2 separate regions of the Homo sapiens genome follow, and region 2 is linked to region 1. The links come from fine-mapping of genetic effects on gene expression. Tissue or cell type: whole blood. Region 1 holds a variant in brackets; the other region holds the start of a gene. All regions are shown on one strand. Distances are from middle to middle.

Region 1 (8,000 bases):
CCTGTCAAGGGCCCACCATCTCAGGGCCACCCACCCTCGGTGGCCACTAGATGGAATGGGTCCGCCTCTACTAGGGGAGGTGGAGAGGCCAGCCCAGGTCCTGCTGAGGGAACCGGCCGCCCCACTCCCTGGCAGCTGCGGCTTCCAGCAGTGCTGGGTGGAGGCGATTCCCCACGGAGATGCCCTCTGATCAGGGATGTGACACGGGCTAATGACTGTTGTTGCTGCAGCTGGGCCTGGACTTCAAGGAAACAATTATCTGTGACTCAGTCCTCCAGTTAAAGGTGTGCAGAGGGTGGCAGGGTGCGCAGGTAGAAAGGGTGGTTTGGTTGGATCCTAAAAAGGCCGTTGGCAGCAGAGGGAAAAGGGGCTGAATAAAGGTTAGAGAAGAGATGGGAGCAACACTGACAGGGAAGGACCAGAGGTCTAGTTTCCAAGGAGAGGAGCAGCAGAGACAAGGCGCAGGGAAAGAGGGACAGGGAGTAGGGTGCCAACCAGTGAACCAGTTTCCGTGGCCAAGTCAGCAGGGAAGCCGTGGAGCCCATGCCCCATCCCTTGTTCCCTGGCACCCGGCCTGCTCCAGGAAAGAATGGAACCTAGACCAAACCAATGGCTTCCTCTTTTTCTCTGGAAGTCATTACTTTACTGGCTGACTCAGGAGGGTTTCCAGACACAGCAGCCAGGGGGTACCCAGTGACCTTCCCCTGAACAGAAAGACCATTCCATTCTGGCTACAGTGTAATGGAGGAGCCCAGGTAGCAGCCTCGGCCTGACCACGCCCCCACGTGCTGCCCAACCCACCCTGCTATTTGTTATACCTGACTTGCGGGTGCTCAGCTCAGCACATCCTCAAGCTACTTCTCTCACCCCATAGCCAAGCCCCCACCCACCTCTTAGAATCCCCGGGGCTCTCTCCTCTCACTCCTTGCTCCCCCACCGACTTTGGGGCTGGACTTCCCCCTCCACTGTGTGCCCACCTCCTCCTGGGACCCTTCATGCCCCCTACCGGAGCCGGCCACCGTCCACTCCTCCTGGTGCTGCTGCTGGTGCTGCACGAAGCTGATTCGGCGGCGGAAGTGGCGGGGACAATGGGGGCAGGTGAAAGGCCCCTCCCGGGGTGCATGGACCCGCCCGTGGCCCTCCAGCCGGGCAGCTGTCCGAAAGGCCTTGCCACAGATGCTGCAGCAGTGGCGCTTGGGGTCCGTGTGGGTCCTGCTGTGGTTCTTAAGAGACAGCAGGTTAGGGAGAAGTTTGGGACAGAGGGAGCACGGGTACAACCCTGTGGTGTGGGCCTTCTGGTGGTTCAGCAGGCTGCCAGCATGGCGGTAGGAGCGCCCGCACTGGGTGCAGCGGAAGGGCCGCTCCTTGTCCTCAGCCGCCATGGACGTCACCGCTTGTCCTCCCCTGGCTCTCTCCACACTCTCTCCTGGGCCTCTGGGGGTTTCTGATGGGGCCTCCTGGGCTTTCCCTTGACCAGGGAGAACCACCTGGTCCTCCCCAGTCCCGGCTTTGGGATCTCTGGCCTCCTCCATCTGGGCTGGCACCTGGCTGTGGCCCCGGGCATGAGCCTGCAGGTGGCTGGCCAGTTCCTGGTGGGACTCAAAGGCTTTGCCACAGTCAGGACAGGCAAAGGTCTGGGCGTCTATGTGGTTGTGGCTGTGGCTCTTTGTGGCCACAGGATTTAAGAACTCCTTGGAGCAGAGCAGGCAATAGTGTCGGTCTGTCTTGTTGGTGTTGTGGTTCAAGAGGCTGCCTGACTGGCAGTAAGTCTTGCCACACTGGCTGCAAGAGGAGTGGCTCCCTGGCTGCAGCTGAGAGCTGTTGTCTCTGTTGTCCCAGCTATCCATGTGACTCAGAGTAGGTCCATTGAGCTGGCAGTCACCAGCGTGGCAAGGACTCCTGTGGACACTGTCCTCTGGCTCCTCTGACCTAGTTAGGAACTGAGGAACCCAGCCTCCACTATGATTCCCCAGTCCCCCACCTACCGGCCACCCACCTGCCTTCCCTGCACCCCAGGACAGTGGCTCTGGGGCTTCTGAGCTTGCTGCCCTGATGGGGCTCTGACTGCGCTCCCCTGGCCTTGGGACTCCATCCTCCAAGTGGGGTACTGGCTCAGCACCACCCAATTGGGTCTCTAGTCCCTGGCTGCCAGTCAGGTTCGCCTCACTGGCCGCTGTGCCATCCAGGCCTCCCTGGCCATTGGCTGGCTCCCTTTCTGTCTCCTCATGCTCCCGCAGGTGCCGCTCCAAAGATCCCCGGCCAGGGAAGCTGCGGCCACAGAGGGCGCAACGCACAGCTGTGCGCCTGGACCGTCCAGCCCGTCGCCGCCGATTCTCTGAGTGCAGCCTCTGGTGGTCCTTCAGGGCCATGCGGTTGGAGTAGGTCTTGGGGCAGGTGGGGCAGCTGTACTGGCCCGTCTCGTGGCTGCGCCGGTGGTTCAGGAGGCTGCCGGCGTGGCGATAGGTCCGCCCGCACTGCCCACAGCGGAAGGGCCGATCTTCCCGAGTCGCCTTTCGGGTGCCCCCACCCCCACGCCGTTCCATGTGGACCCGCTGGTGGCTGGCCAGCTGTTTCCGCAGGCGGAAGGCCTTCCCACACTCGCTGCAGCGGAAACGTCGGGGATCTGCATGGATGCGCCGGTGGTTCTTGAGGGACATGAGGTTTGAGAAGCCCTTGGAGCAGGCCTGACAGCCAAAGTGGCCGGTCTGGTGGCTCTGCCGGTGGTTGATGAGGCTGCCGGCGTGCTTGTAGGATCGGCCACACACCTCGCAGCTGAAGGGCCGCTCAGAGCTGGCTTCAGTCTGGCAGCCCTTCTCGGCAGTCTCCAGCCTGGGCTCTATCTCCTCCCCCTTCACAGTGGTCTCCTCCCACACCTCTTCTTTCACCCTGGCCACTTCCTCCAGGGGCTCCACTTTAAGTTCTTCCTGGAGCTTCTCGACTTCTGCTTGCCCCGGCCCCTCCTCTGCCATGTGCTGGGGCTTGTTGCTGCCTCCTTCTGGGATGGGCCCAACCTGCAGCTCACTGCTACCTGCTGCCTCTGGGATGGGCCCAACCTGGGGCTCAGAGCCTTTGCAGCGAGGGTGGTTCCGCAGATGATTACGGTAGGCAGCCAGGTTGGGGTAGCAGCGGGAGCAGACAGGGCAGAGAAAGTCTCCAGTCTGGTGGATCTTGCGGTGGTTCACCAGGCTGCCCCCATGGCGATAGGTCTTGCCACACTGGTTGCAGCGGAAGGGGCGGGGCTGAGCCTCCAACAAACTTTCCCCACCCTGGATGCAGAGGCTGTCTCCCAAGGGGGTGCCTGCTCCCTCTTGAGACTTGGCATCTCCACCCTCTCCAGAGACAGAATTCACTATGTCCTCCAAGACACTGTCCACGACCATCTCCATGGCATCACCTGCCACTCCCAAGGGGCTGGGAGCCTTGTCTGCAGTAGTCCCAGAACTCTGACTTTGGTGGTGACGCTCCAGGCTCCCCAGGTCATCGTAGGTCTGACCACAGCAGCCACAGATGTGCCCATACCCTGCACTGTCCAGCGCTTCCACCTCCCGCTGCAGCTGATTCAGCAGCTCTGCTTCCGAGAGCTGCAGTGGTGGACTGCGTGCAGGGGCTGCCTCTGCCACTCCTTCCTCTTCCCCCTCCTCCTCTGAGCCCTCAGTCATGCCAGAGGAGCTGTGGGCCTGGCGCCGGTGAAGCCTGTAGCCAGCCCGCCCAGGGAAGATCATGCCACAGAGGCAGCAGAGGAAAGGCTGTGCTGAGGTCGCCTCCCCAGGCCTATGGTTCTGGAAGTGGCTGCGGAGGGCAGGCAGAGAGTCAAACTCCTTCGGGCAGAGGGAGCACTGATAGATGCCTGGTGGGTGGCAGGGCCTGTGGCTCAGCAGGCCAGTGGCATGGGGGAAAGAATGCCCACAGTCAGAGCATGTGTGAGCGGCCCCAGCCTGCCAGCCAGTGACAGCATTGGCAGAGTGGGAAGAGGAGTTGGGTTGGCCAGTGGCTGGCTTCTGGTCTTCATCCACCCCAGTGAGGCTATCGCAGAAGTGAGTGCCACCACCTTCCTCACCTGGGATGTCCAAGTTGTCAAGTAAACTGGCATCCTTCCTTTCCAGTCCTTCCCCAGTGCCTCCGCTCTCTTTATCACCCTGGAAATGGGTCTCATCCCTCTCAAGCCCACATTTGTCCCCTTCAGATTCAGCCTGCAAACAGTCCCCATCACTTTCCAGGTTGCCTTCAGCCCCATGAGGACTTTCCCCTGAAGGGTCTTGGGGAGACTCCAGGCCTTCATTGTCTTCTAGCTCCCGGGTCCAGCTCTCCGCTGCCAGGAGTTTGGCTTCTCTCCCACCGCTGGCACCGCCAGCCCGCTTCCGATGCCGCCTGCTCCGCCGCCGACTGTGCCGGCGCAAGTGGTTCTTCATGGCAGCCATGGTGTGGAAGTGCTTGGCACAGGCCCCACAACTGAAGTCTCCTGTCTGGTGGGTCTGCCTGTGGTTGATAAGGCTGCCTGAGTGGCGATAGCTCTTTCCACAGTCTCGGCAGGCAAAGGCCCTAGGAGGTGACATTGTGGTCTCTGTTCTGCTATTTTCCTTTTCCCCTGCCCCATGAGTCAGGCCATGACGTTCAAGGCTCTCAGCGTCTTCAAAGAGCAGCCCACAGATGCTACAGATATGTGCTGCTGTCTTGTCTGCTGCTGGGG[T/C]GATGTCCGTGGCCTCTTCTTCATGTTTGCACACATGGTCCTGATCTGTGTGCGGGGCTGCCTCTGCCTCCACTGGGTCAGGCGGGAGTTCTACCTTGAGGTGGCTGGGGGCACCCTCAGCCCCGATGTCTGCACTTCGGCGAGCAGCCTTGCAATGTACCCGCACGTGGTTGCGCAGGGCCATGAGATTGGGGTACTTGCGGGGACAGAGTGAGCACTGGTACTCTCCAGTCCGATGGCTGTGGCGATGGTTCACCAGGCTCCCCCGGTGGCGGTAAGCACGACCACACTCACTGCACTTATAGGGCCGATGGTCCAGGGTGGTGGTGGGGTCCTCTTCCTCTTTGTGGGTGGTCTCAGCCAGCAGCAGGGGAGCTGGTGGGACTGATGGCTGCCCATTTTCCCCAACTCCTTGCCTGGGCCTGTGATGAGCCCGCACATGGTTTTTGAGGGCAGCCGCATTGAACAGCTGCTTAGAACAGAGTGAGCAGGGGTAGACACCTGTCTGGTGGCTCTTTCGATGGTTGATGAGGCTCCCAGCATGGCGGTAAGTACGGCCACAGTCCCCACAGCGGAAAGGCCGGTATTCCTCCAGGCCACTGTCCTCCAGCTCCCCAGAGGTGCTGAGCTCCGCAGAGCCATTCAGCATCTGTGCACTGGGGAGCTGGTCCTGGCTGCTCTCATCTGTGTGCCCATTGGTGGTGGGCATCCCTTTCTCCTCCCAGCGTGGCTCCTGCCTTTCACCCTCATGGGACTGCTGGTGTTCCAGCAGCTCCCGGGGGAGCCGGAAGACACGGGGGCAGTGGGGACAGTGGTAAGGCCGATACTGGGCATGCAGTCGAGAGTGGTTCTTCAGAGCCATGAGGTTAGAGAACTCCTTGAAACAGATGGCACAGGGGTAGATGCCCAGCGTGTGGCTCTGGCGGTGGTTGGTGAGGCTCCCGGCGTGCTTGTAGGTCTTGCCACACTGACTACATTTGTACCGCCGCTCCTCCTCAGCAGGAGGGGACTGGGTGGGCTCCTGGCCCCCTGTGAAGTTCACTACTGATTCAGCCAGATACTGTTCCAAGTTGCTAAGAAGGCTGCTGGCTGGGATGGGGAGAGGAGGGGCTCTGGCAGAGTTAGTGGAGGGTCCCCAGCCGTCTGCACCATCCTCAGGACCTGGGTGGCTTGCCAAGCCTTCTCTTTGTCTGGTGGGCAGATCTTCCCACGTACCCGAAGCTGCCCTGGGGTCAGGTACAGATTCACAGTCAGGTGTCTCTTCTGTATGTTTTGTCTGGTTTTCCCAGCCTTCACTAGAGCCAAGCCTTTGGCCCCAGGAGTCAGTGGACACCGTCTCACCCTGGAGGTGTGGAGTGGCTTCCTTGGGGCGTGGGGGCCTGTGCCTGCGGCGGCCCTCAGGAGCATGTGTCCTCATATGGCTCTTGAGAGCCATGGGATTGGAGAAGTCCTTGCCACAGGTGGTACAGGGGAAAAGGCCAGTCTCGTGGGTCCGACGATGGTTAACCAGGCTCCCGGGGTGACGGTAGCCCCGCCCACACTGCTGACAACGGTAGGGCCGAGGGATGCTGTCAGCCTCCTCACTGTCCTGGTTGGGAGATGGATGGAGCAGTTCTCGGTGCCGAGAGAGCTCTGGGAGGCTGGGAAAGTGGCGCTGACAGTCGGAGCAGCTGAGTGAGGGGGGTGTGTCCTCCATGGGGCAACGTAGCAGAAACCTGGAGGTTCAGAAGGAGCAGACACGTGGCAGCACCTTCCTCTGGTGGAGGGGCCAAGGCCTAGGAAGAGGGGGCAGTGGTCAAAAGGAAGGCCTGAATTAACTTCGCCTCTTGGCTCTACGAGCAACAAGTTCACCTGAGGTCACTGAGAGGTTCCCCAAGCATCCATGCCCAAGGACCTAATTTCTACTAGATCCAATCTGCAGGCACCATCATTTAAGGCTTCCCTGTGCACAAGCTTCCCAAATATAGGAGCTCCCCTAGGCTTAAGTCATCCCTACAGGTATAGCTAAGGAAATTAAAGTTGAGAGAGATGCAACCTACTTCTGATCACAGACCTGTTATGTTCTTCAGACCAGACTCAAAAGGCATTACTGTCCTTTAAGAACAGTAGGAATCTGCTCCCTACAATCCTGAAACAAAAATTTTCTGTGACATCTTAAAAGGACACCAAAACCTTCTCTAGGCCTTTCAATAAGAGAAGTCCAAATCTTCCTACTTCATCTCTCAGCTAAACAGAGTAGCTGAGAAGCACTGAAAAAGCAGCTGTTTCCTCCAGTTAATAGCTGAGGACCTGAGAGGAGAGGTTAGAGGCCTCCTTCAGGGAAAGGGCTGGCTTGTTCCCCCACCACCCCGAGTCATTTCAGTGTCACAAGGTCTCTTTTCCTTGTGACAAGAGAGTTAAGAGAGTTAAGACTCTCTTAACTGGGCCAGGTGTGGTGGCTCACGCCTGTAATCCCAGCACTTTGGGAGGCCGAGGCTGGTGGATCACCTGAGTTCAGGAGTTCAAGACCAGCCTGGACAACATGGTGAAACCCTGTCTCTACTAAAAATACAAAAATTAGCCGGGCGTGGTGGTGGGCACCTGTAATTCTAGCTACTCAGGAGGCTGAGGCTGAAGAACTGCTTGAACCTGGGAGGTGGAGGTTGCAGTGAGCTGAGATCCCACCACAGCACTCCAGCCTGGGTGACAGAGCGAGACTCCATCTCAAAAAAACAAAAAACCCCAAAAGACTCTCTTAGCGACTTCTTTTATCTACTTCCCTTGAACTCAAACTATCTTCCATCTTGGGAATAACATCAATACCAGGTTGTAATGTCACTTCATTGCCTACCTTTTCTCTCCCATGCCTCCTGATCTTACCCTCACCAGTCTTTCTCATTTTTTTCTTCTGCCTCCTCTCTTAATACTGATGATGACAGCAACTCATGAAGAGTATTATATTACCATGTGCCAGGCACTGTGCTAACTATATTCATTGTGTTACTCAATCCTCAGAACACACGGCAATGCCTGTTATTCTAGTTCACGTAACAGCAAACCCCCTGACTGAGGCGGTCTTCATCCCAAAGCCCTTGCTCTCTCATGCCCCCTACATCGTCTTGTCCTTCTCCAACTCTGACTCTTCTTCCCATGGGACCCCAGTACAACTGTCTCCGACCGTAAACCCCTTCACTGAACCTGCCCCCGGAATTCTCACCTCACAAAGCCCCTTTGATCAAAAGTCCCCTCCCCTAGTCAACCACCAATGAAGTCCTCTGACCTCACTCATCTCGTCTGCCAATTTCCTCTCAGGACGCCTACCTCGCACCGGCGG
Region 2 (8,000 bases), 130 kb after region 1:
GCAGGGACAAGAGGGGATGTACTGATCTCCCCATAACCTCAACTGTAGAGATTTTTTCCGCCTATCGGGATACATCACTGATACATATCCCTAGGACCTAGAACTGTGCCTGGCAGAAACCAGAGACATTCAGTCTCTGTTGAGTAAACGAATGGACAGCTTTGCAAAGGCTCTGTTCTGTTCTGGTTTCCCCACCTCCCTATCAAGAGGGCTGGATGGCCGGGCGCGGCGGTTCATGCCTATAATCCCAGCACTTTGGGAGGCCAAAGTGTGTGGATCACCTGAGGTCAGGAGTTTGAGACCAACCTGGCCAACATGGCGAAACCCCGTCTCTACTAAAAGTACAAAAATTAGCCGGGCATCGTGGCACATGCCTGTAATCCCTGCTACTTGAGAGGCTGAGGCAGGAGAACTGCTTGAACCCAGGAGGCAGAAGTTTGAGTGAGCCGAGATCATGTGACTGCACTCCAGCCTGGGCAACAGAGCAAGACTCTGTCTCAAAAAAAAATTAAAAATAAAAATAAAAAAAAGGGCTGGATGACATGCTTCTAACAGGTTTACTGCATAGGGATCAAACAGCAGATTCTGGAGCTGGGCTGCCTGGGATCATTCTCTGCTCTAGCTGTGTAATCTTGAGCAAGTCAGTTCTCTGTGTGCCTCAATTTCCTATCTGGAAATAGAGATTGATAACAGCACCTCCCTGCCTTATAGGGTTGGTATAAACATTAAATGAAATATACATGAAATGGGCTGGGAGTGGTGGCTCACGCCTTTCATCCCAACACTTTGGGAGGCCGAGTTGGGCGGATCACCTGAGGTCAGGAGTTCAAGACCAGCCTGGCCAACATGGTGAAACCCTGTCTCTACTAAAAATATAAAAATTAGCCGGGCGTGGTGGTGTGCGCCTGTAATCCCGGCTACTCAGGAGCTTGGGAGGCTAAGGCAGGAGAATTGCTTGAACCCAGGAGGCAGAGGTTGCAGTGAGCCGAGATCGCACCACTGCACTCCAGCCTGGGTGACAGTGTGGGACTCTGTCTCAAAAAAAAAAAAAAAAGAAAGATAAGAAAGAAAAGAAAGAAAGAAAAAGAAAGAGGAAAGGAAAGGAAAAGGAAAAGGAAGAAAAAGAAAAAGAACAGTGCCAGGCACAGAGTAAGCACTAGGTATGTGTTTGCTGTTCTTGCTATAGTGAATGCTAAAGTCTGAGGACAGAGTTTACAAATCGGCACACTGTGGACCACTGCCAGCTTGCAGACGTGTTTTGCTTGGCTCACACAGTGTGTTTCTTAAAAAATGGAAGATGCTGCCAACTTGTAAAACTGAAGAGATTTCTTATATCCCTATTTCCAGATCCCCTTGAAAACTTGGAAGAACTAGCCACACTTGGCCTGCGTTCCTGCATGGCAACTATCAGCTCAAATCAGTCATGGCTGCTCCCCTTGGAAAGGTCATGGGGTCTCTCTTTTTTTTTTTTTGGTAGATGCCAGGTCTTGCTATGTTGCCCAGGCTGGCTGGACTCGAACTCCTGGGCTCCTAGGCTCAAGCGATCCTCCTGCCTTGGCCTCCCAAAGTGCTGGGATGAAAGGTGTGAGCCATCACCCCCAATGTCATGGGGTCTCTTGCTTGCTAGTCCCTACCCAGCCAATTTGGCATCCATATTACCTGCCTGGCCCTTTGCAAACATTTGAGTTGATGACCCTATTCTAGGAATTTATAAATTTGGAGTCTGGAACCAGACGGCTTAGGCTCAAATCCTGCCACTTACTTGCTGTGGGACCTTGGGCAGGTGTCTTAACATCTCTGATCCTCAGTTTCCTCATCTGTAAAATGGCCAGAGTAGCAGTACCCACTTTGTAGGCTAACAGATGATGTATATAAAGGCACTGAGGGCAGTGCCTGGTGCTTAGTGACAGCTGGATACAATTTGTATAATGCTATTCTAACTTAGGCCACCTGAGTTTCAGAAGCCCACTCTCTCCCCATCCCTGGTTCTTGTAGGGTCCATTCGATTGCTCTGGGCCTGGGGAAAGAAGAAGGTAGGTGTAGAGGCTGGCGGGTGGAGGTAGGAAAACAGGGCTGAGTATTTTGGGAAATTGGGCCATGGCAGGTGTCAGGAGGTGTTTTCCACAGACAGGGATCTGGGCCAGGCTTAGTCCTGGTTTCTCCCAGAGCCTGGCCCAGCCTCGGTCACCCCTGCTAGGACTGCGGCCAGTCCTGCCCCCGGAACCTAAACCTCCAGCCCCTTCCTCCTGCAGAGAAGGCTCGGGCCCTTAAGCTGTCACCCCAGCAACCTGCACCTGCATATTCTGCCGTGGAGGGATTGTCTCCTTGGGAACAGGCTGGACCATGGGGTTGACCTCCCTCAGCTTGGGTGGCTGCTCCCTTCCCTCTGCAGGCTGTGCAGATGAAGGGGAGCCAACATCCTGTCCCTAGGTGATGCCCCCATCATGAAAGGTAAGCTGGTCTGTGGATTCTGGGACCCCACATAGAAGACCATAGGCTTATGATGACCCTTAGGGTTAGAGAGTTTCCCTGTCATTGTTCAAATATGGAGGTTGTGGCACAGACAGGGCAGGGACTAGCCCAGATCCCCTAGCGCCATGGTCCCCACCCCAACCGCCTCTGATATCCACCCCCACAGGAGTGCGTTCCCCAAAGTACCTCCTGCAGCTCACTTTCTCCTTTTTCCTGGGGTGATGGTGGGGCAACCCCAGACTAACAGAGCAGCAACCCTGGGTCCCAGTTCATTCGCTCCTGCCCAGAGGCAAGGCTTTTACTTTCCACACCTGTCCAATTAGCAGGCTAGTCTGAGCCATCCTTGGTACGTGACCTGCTCTGACATGCCTGGCTCACCCTGGGGCGGTTACTTGGCTGGCTACAGAGGGCGCACCCTCCATGATCTCAGTTTCCCACTGGCTTGCAAGCGGGGTGGAGGCCTGTCCAGGGTCACACAGCTGGCCACAAGCAGGGAGGAGCCAGGACTGTGTCTGCTGATCCTCACCCTGGGACCTCCCTCCATCCCACTTCCTGTGAGGCCACTGCTGGGGCAGACCGTTAGCCAACACCGTCCTCCTGCACCTGGGGTTTATCAGCTTGAGACTCGCTTATCAGTTTCCTCATCAGCCTCCTTCCCCAGCGGTTCCCTCCCGGGCATGATCTCTTGTCAGTTTTCCTGGTTGACACTAGCACCCCTTGGGCCCGCTGGAGAGTGGCCACCTTCCCTGGGACGGGCCCACCTTCAGCTGGGTGACCCTTCCACCCAGCTAATCCATCTCGAGCCCCCCACCTGTTGATGCAGCCCCCACCCAGCTGACCTGCCTTTGAAGCTGGCACTGGGACTTAGGAACCACTTCTGCCAGGTACAGGCTCCATCTGGACCACTCTGCCTCACTGTTGCAGTCAACCCCACCAGCGATTTGTTCACCCCACTCCCACTACGACACCTTTAGGACTTTCGTGTCCTCCGGTGGCCCCGTCTCCTGGGGTCCCCTGTACACACACATCCGTAAGAAGGGACTTGCTCAGTCCCGCGGGACCTTGTTCCTTCCCCCTTTGACGAAAGCCCCCTTTAACCTGTCTCCCTTGGGACCTGTTTACTTCGCCCCCCCCCCGACCTGTGCCCCCCACTTGCTCTGCCCCACCGGGTGTGACCCCTCCCGGCCCCTCACCATGGCGAAGCCCGAGAGCAAGGCAGACGTGCGGCTGGAAGCTTTGAGCTTGGCCCGGCTGAGGTAGAGGCGGCGCCAGCTGAGCGCCCGCAGCGAGTGCTGACTGGCCCCCATGAGGTCCAGGTAGCCGCGGTGCACGAACTCCCGGTACGTGGCCGAGCCTGCAGGGCTCTCGCCCTCAGGGTTCAGCGGGGCCTGCTCGCCCGCGTCCCCCTCGCCGCCCTTCATCCTGGGGGGGGGGCGGCACCAGGCGGTCACTACGGGGCGGAAGCGCCTCGGGGGCCCCAGCCGGGCCGGCCCAAGCCCGGGGGCGGCCCCATTCCCAGACAGGACGAGCAGGATGCAGGCGGCGGGCGCCCAGGAAGAGGCACCCCCAGTGGAGCAAGAAAAGCAGCGTCTGCGGGGAGCCCCAGGAGCCGGAGCGGGACAGCGGAGGCCAAAACAGGAACTGGGACAGAGGCGGAGCCGGGGCTAGCCACATGATGGGGTGGAGCCGGGGACCAAGTCCCCGCAGTCCCGGGCCCGCAGAGATTCCCCGCGACCCCTACCCACCAAGAACGTTATCCAAGCGCCCGGACCCCACCGAGGTGCACGCCAACCCCAGCCCCCTCCAAGGTACAGCTGGACACCCCAGGTGTCCACACTTCCAAATCCCTCCCAAAATGAGTCCAGGAGAGGTGAGCCCACTCATCTGTAGGTAGGGACCCCGCAGATACACACACGAACTCCGCAGCCCCGGCTGGAAGATTTTGAGTTTTATAGCAAACCGTATTGTACAGACCCGGGGCCCAGGGGCCCAGCCCGGCTGGGTCCCCCGCTTGCCCCTCGCCGGGCTGCCTCTTCCCTCCCCCAAGCGGCCCCATTCTCAAGCCTCTCGCTATCCCCAGGCCCCACCCCTCCGGCCTTTGGTCCGCCCAGCCCTCCCCCCACCCGCGCACCTCCCTGTTACCTGAGGTATGTGGATAGATCTCCCCTCCCCTACATGGTAAGCCCCGGCCCCCCGGAGGCCTGCGCGGAGGGGCGGGACCTGGCCCGGCTCATCCCCGGGGTCCCGAAGCCCCACCCCGCGCTCGAGGAAGGGGCAGGGAAGGAGGGCCAGCAGAGTCTGTTACTAGGTTCCCATGGCAACTAAGAGGGGGCCATTTCCAGCCTTAGCACTGGCATCGGGAGGTGTCCGTTGGCTGCTATTTCCATGGCAACCAGGAGTGGCAGTTCCCTGGGCAAATGGGATACAAGTTTCCATGACGATGAAAGAGTGGGAAGAGCCAGGCTGGAGGAGTCCCATGGTCCCCATTCTTGGGCTGGCGCCCCCAGCCATAATGCGGGTCCGGCGGGTGCCGCCGCTCAATACAGTAAAACAAGAACAAGCCTGGGGGTGGCGCAGTCCCAAATGGGCGCCCACCGGCCCGGTCTCAGGTCTCAGTCCAAGCTGGTCCAGTCCCCTCACACCCCGGCTCCCCCAGGTCCGAGATTCCCCCGGTTCAAGTAACACTTCAGTACAGATGAATGTTCAAGTATTGTGCGGAGAGGCGGGCAGGGGGTTGGGGCGCCCCTCGCCACTCCCCTGGGCCGCGAGCTGAAGAGCGGCTGCCCGCGGCCCCCACTCCTTGCAATAGCTGCCGTTTTCAGTGACGTTCAAGGAGTCAGGGTCAGGGGGAAGGAACTGAAGCCTGGGGAGGGGGGAAGCAGAGAGGTGACCCCCAAGGGGGTATTGCTGTCCCCACACCTGCTCTCATCCCCACCTCCAGCTCAGCCCCAGCTTGCCCCTGGTTCCCCTACCTCTGACACCTGGATCCCCAATTGCTCCTCCGGTTTTCCTTTTGTGGCCCCACCCCCACCCCCCACTCCAAGTAACTGGTCTTTGTTCCCTGAACCCTTGGTGGTCTGCTGTCTGCCCCGCCCCCCGCCCCTTCCACCTCCCCCAGCCCCTGGCTCCCATATCCTGTGTGTGTCCTTTCCCCATTCTCCCCCCCAACACTTGCACCATAACCCCCCTCCCACCGTCCCTTCGGCTCAGCACCCTCCAGTACCTCTGACCCACTCCCCCAGGGGATGGACAATGAAGCAGGTAGCAGGGGCAGGACATAGGAAGGAGAAACCCCCAGAGATATCAGTGCAGGGGGGAAAGAAGGGGGTGGCTGGCTTGAGTCCCTGGGTGGGAATCCCAAGTCACTGACACTCAGGAATCCCAGGGTGGTGAGGTGGGAACCTGGCCTCCCAGCAGGGGTGAAATGAAGCCGGAGGTCCAGGCTCCTGTCGAGTCCGGGGGAGGGTGGGGGGCGCCCAACTAGCTGTCCTTGAGAAGCAGCTTCTCCTCAGGGCAGCGGAAGGGGCCAGGGGGCCCGGCAGCTGCCAGCCGGGCACAAGCTTCGGGTGAGAGCTGGCGGCAGGAGCGCAGGTCTAGGCGGCGTAGACGAGGGCAGCGGCGGAACAGCGGGAGGCAGTGGTCCGTTAGGCGGTGGCAACCTGGGGATGGGGCAGTGGAGCTGAGACCAGGCAGGTGAGCAAGGGGTTGGCACTGGCCGTGGGGATCCACAGGCTGGCAGGACGGATGGGGGACCGTGCTTACCAGCAAGATTGAGGTGCACCAGGGTCTCGCGGAGTGGGGACGTGGGGGCCGTGAGGAGGTGAACACTGGGGTCCCCGACGTGGGCGCAGTGGCTCAGGTCCAGGGCGCTCAGCTGGGGTGCGTGACGCAGCAGGAGACGCAGGGAGGCATCTGTCAGCTCCAAACCTGCCAGACGCAGTTCTGCCACCCCCTGCAGCCGACCACGGCTCTCTGTTTGCCCTGGGCAGCCAGATGAGAGGTCAGCACTCCTGGCCACTCCCATCCCTGCGCCCAGGTATCCAGACCATCTGCCCTCCACCTGCTTCCCACATAAGTGAGTGACCTGGTGCACTCTGTGGCTTGCTCTTCTCAAAAACACCCTCATGGCCTGACCTCATCTGTCCACTCCTCACATCACCTCCTCGGAGGCCTTCCATGATTATTGTATTTGAGACTACAATATTCTGCCAGGCGTGGTGGCTCATGCCTGTAATCCTAGCACTTTGGGAAGCCGAGGCAGGCGGCTCACTTGAGGTCAGGAGTTCGAGACTAGCCTGGCCTAACATGGCAAAACCTTGTCTCTACTCAACATACAAAAATTAGCCGGGTATGGTGGCAGGCGCCTGTAATCCCGGCTACTCAGGAGGCTGAGGCAGGAGAATCACTTGAACCCGAGAGGTGGAGGTTGCAGTGAGCCACGATTGTGCCACTGCACCCCAGCCTGGGCAACAGAGCGAGACTCCATCTCAAAATAAATAAATAAATAAATAAAAGAGTCTGTGACCTCCCCTCCTCTCTCTTGCTGTCTTGCCATGTGACATGCCGATTCCTTCACGTTCCATCAAGAGTAAAAGCTACGTGAGGCTTCCCCAGAAGCTGAGCAGACGCAGGCACGATACTTCCTGTACAGCTTGCAGAATCCTGAGCCAATTCAACCTCTTTTCTTTATAAATTACCCAGCCGAAGGTATTTCTTTATAGCAATGCAAAAACTAATGTAATTCTCCACACTCCTACCACTTCCTTGCATCATTTTTTCCTCTTTTTCTCACCATTTGACATATTATATGCATTTTTCTGACATACATACGTTTTCCTTTTTTTTTTTTTTTTTTTTTTTTCCCCGAGACGGAGTCTTGCTCTGTCACCCAGGCTGGAGTGCAGTGGTACAATCACAGCTTACTGCAGCCTCAACCTCCCTGTAGCTCACTGTAGCCTTGATCCTCCCACTTTGGCCTCCCAAAGTGCTGGGATTACAGGCCTGAGCCACCGCACCTGACCAGAGTTTACTTTTTTTTTTTTTTTTTTGAGATGGAGTCTCACTCTGTAACCCAGGATGGAGTACAGTGGTGCAATCTCGGCTCACTGCAACTTCCACCTCCCAGGTTCAAGCAATCTCCTTGCCACAGCCTCCCAAGTAGTTGGGATTAAAAGCATTTGCCACCACGCCTGGCTAATTTTTTGTATTTTTTTAGTAGAGATGGGGTTTCACCATGTTGGCCAGGCTGGTCTCAAACTCCTGACCTCAAGTGATCTGCCCACCTCGGCCTCCCAAAGTGCTAGGATTACAGGTGTGAGCCACCATGCCCGGCCCAGAGTTTACTTTTTTAACAAGTTCTCCAGTTTTGTGGATGCTGCTGGTCCCCCGACCACACTTTAAGAACCACAGCCTTGGGAGACAAGATCTCTGATCATCATTCCTGTTTACAGCCAGGAAACCCAGGCCTGGTGATGCTGAATCTGAACTCTTACCACAGTGTTGTCTGCCTCCCAGGCACCAGCCTATCC

The links. PIP is the estimated chance that this variant, and not a neighbour inherited with it, causes the effect.
Region 2: it holds the start of ORAI3, and the variant in region 1 is fine-mapped to the expression of ORAI3 in whole blood (TOPMed, PIP 0.99).

The regions. Positions count from the first base shown.
Region 1 is chr16:31,074,708-31,082,707 of GRCh38, reverse strand. It overlaps ZNF646 (zinc finger protein 646), which reads right to left. Exons shown (of 3, transcript NM_014699.4): 2 at 1,007-6,462. The coding sequence starts at 6,383. Among named protein-coding and RNA genes, the nearest start is that of ZNF646, 4.3 kb to the right of the region's middle. RefSeq lists an enhancer at 7,520-8,000. The variant T/C (reference allele first, on the strand shown) is at 4,688.
Region 2 is chr16:30,945,183-30,953,182 of GRCh38, reverse strand. It overlaps ORAI3 (ORAI calcium release-activated calcium modulator 3), which reads right to left and starts at 4,115. Exons shown (of 2, transcript NM_152288.3): 1 at 3,666-4,115. The coding sequence starts at 3,893. It overlaps FBXL19 (F-box and leucine rich repeat protein 19), which reads right to left. Exons shown (of 11, transcript NM_001382779.1): 10 at 6,235-6,453; 11 at 4,400-6,131. The coding sequence ends at 5,953. RefSeq lists enhancers at 1-182, 2,242-2,759, 2,760-2,989, 3,278-3,796 and silencers at 3,720-3,769, 3,810-4,069, 4,440-4,689.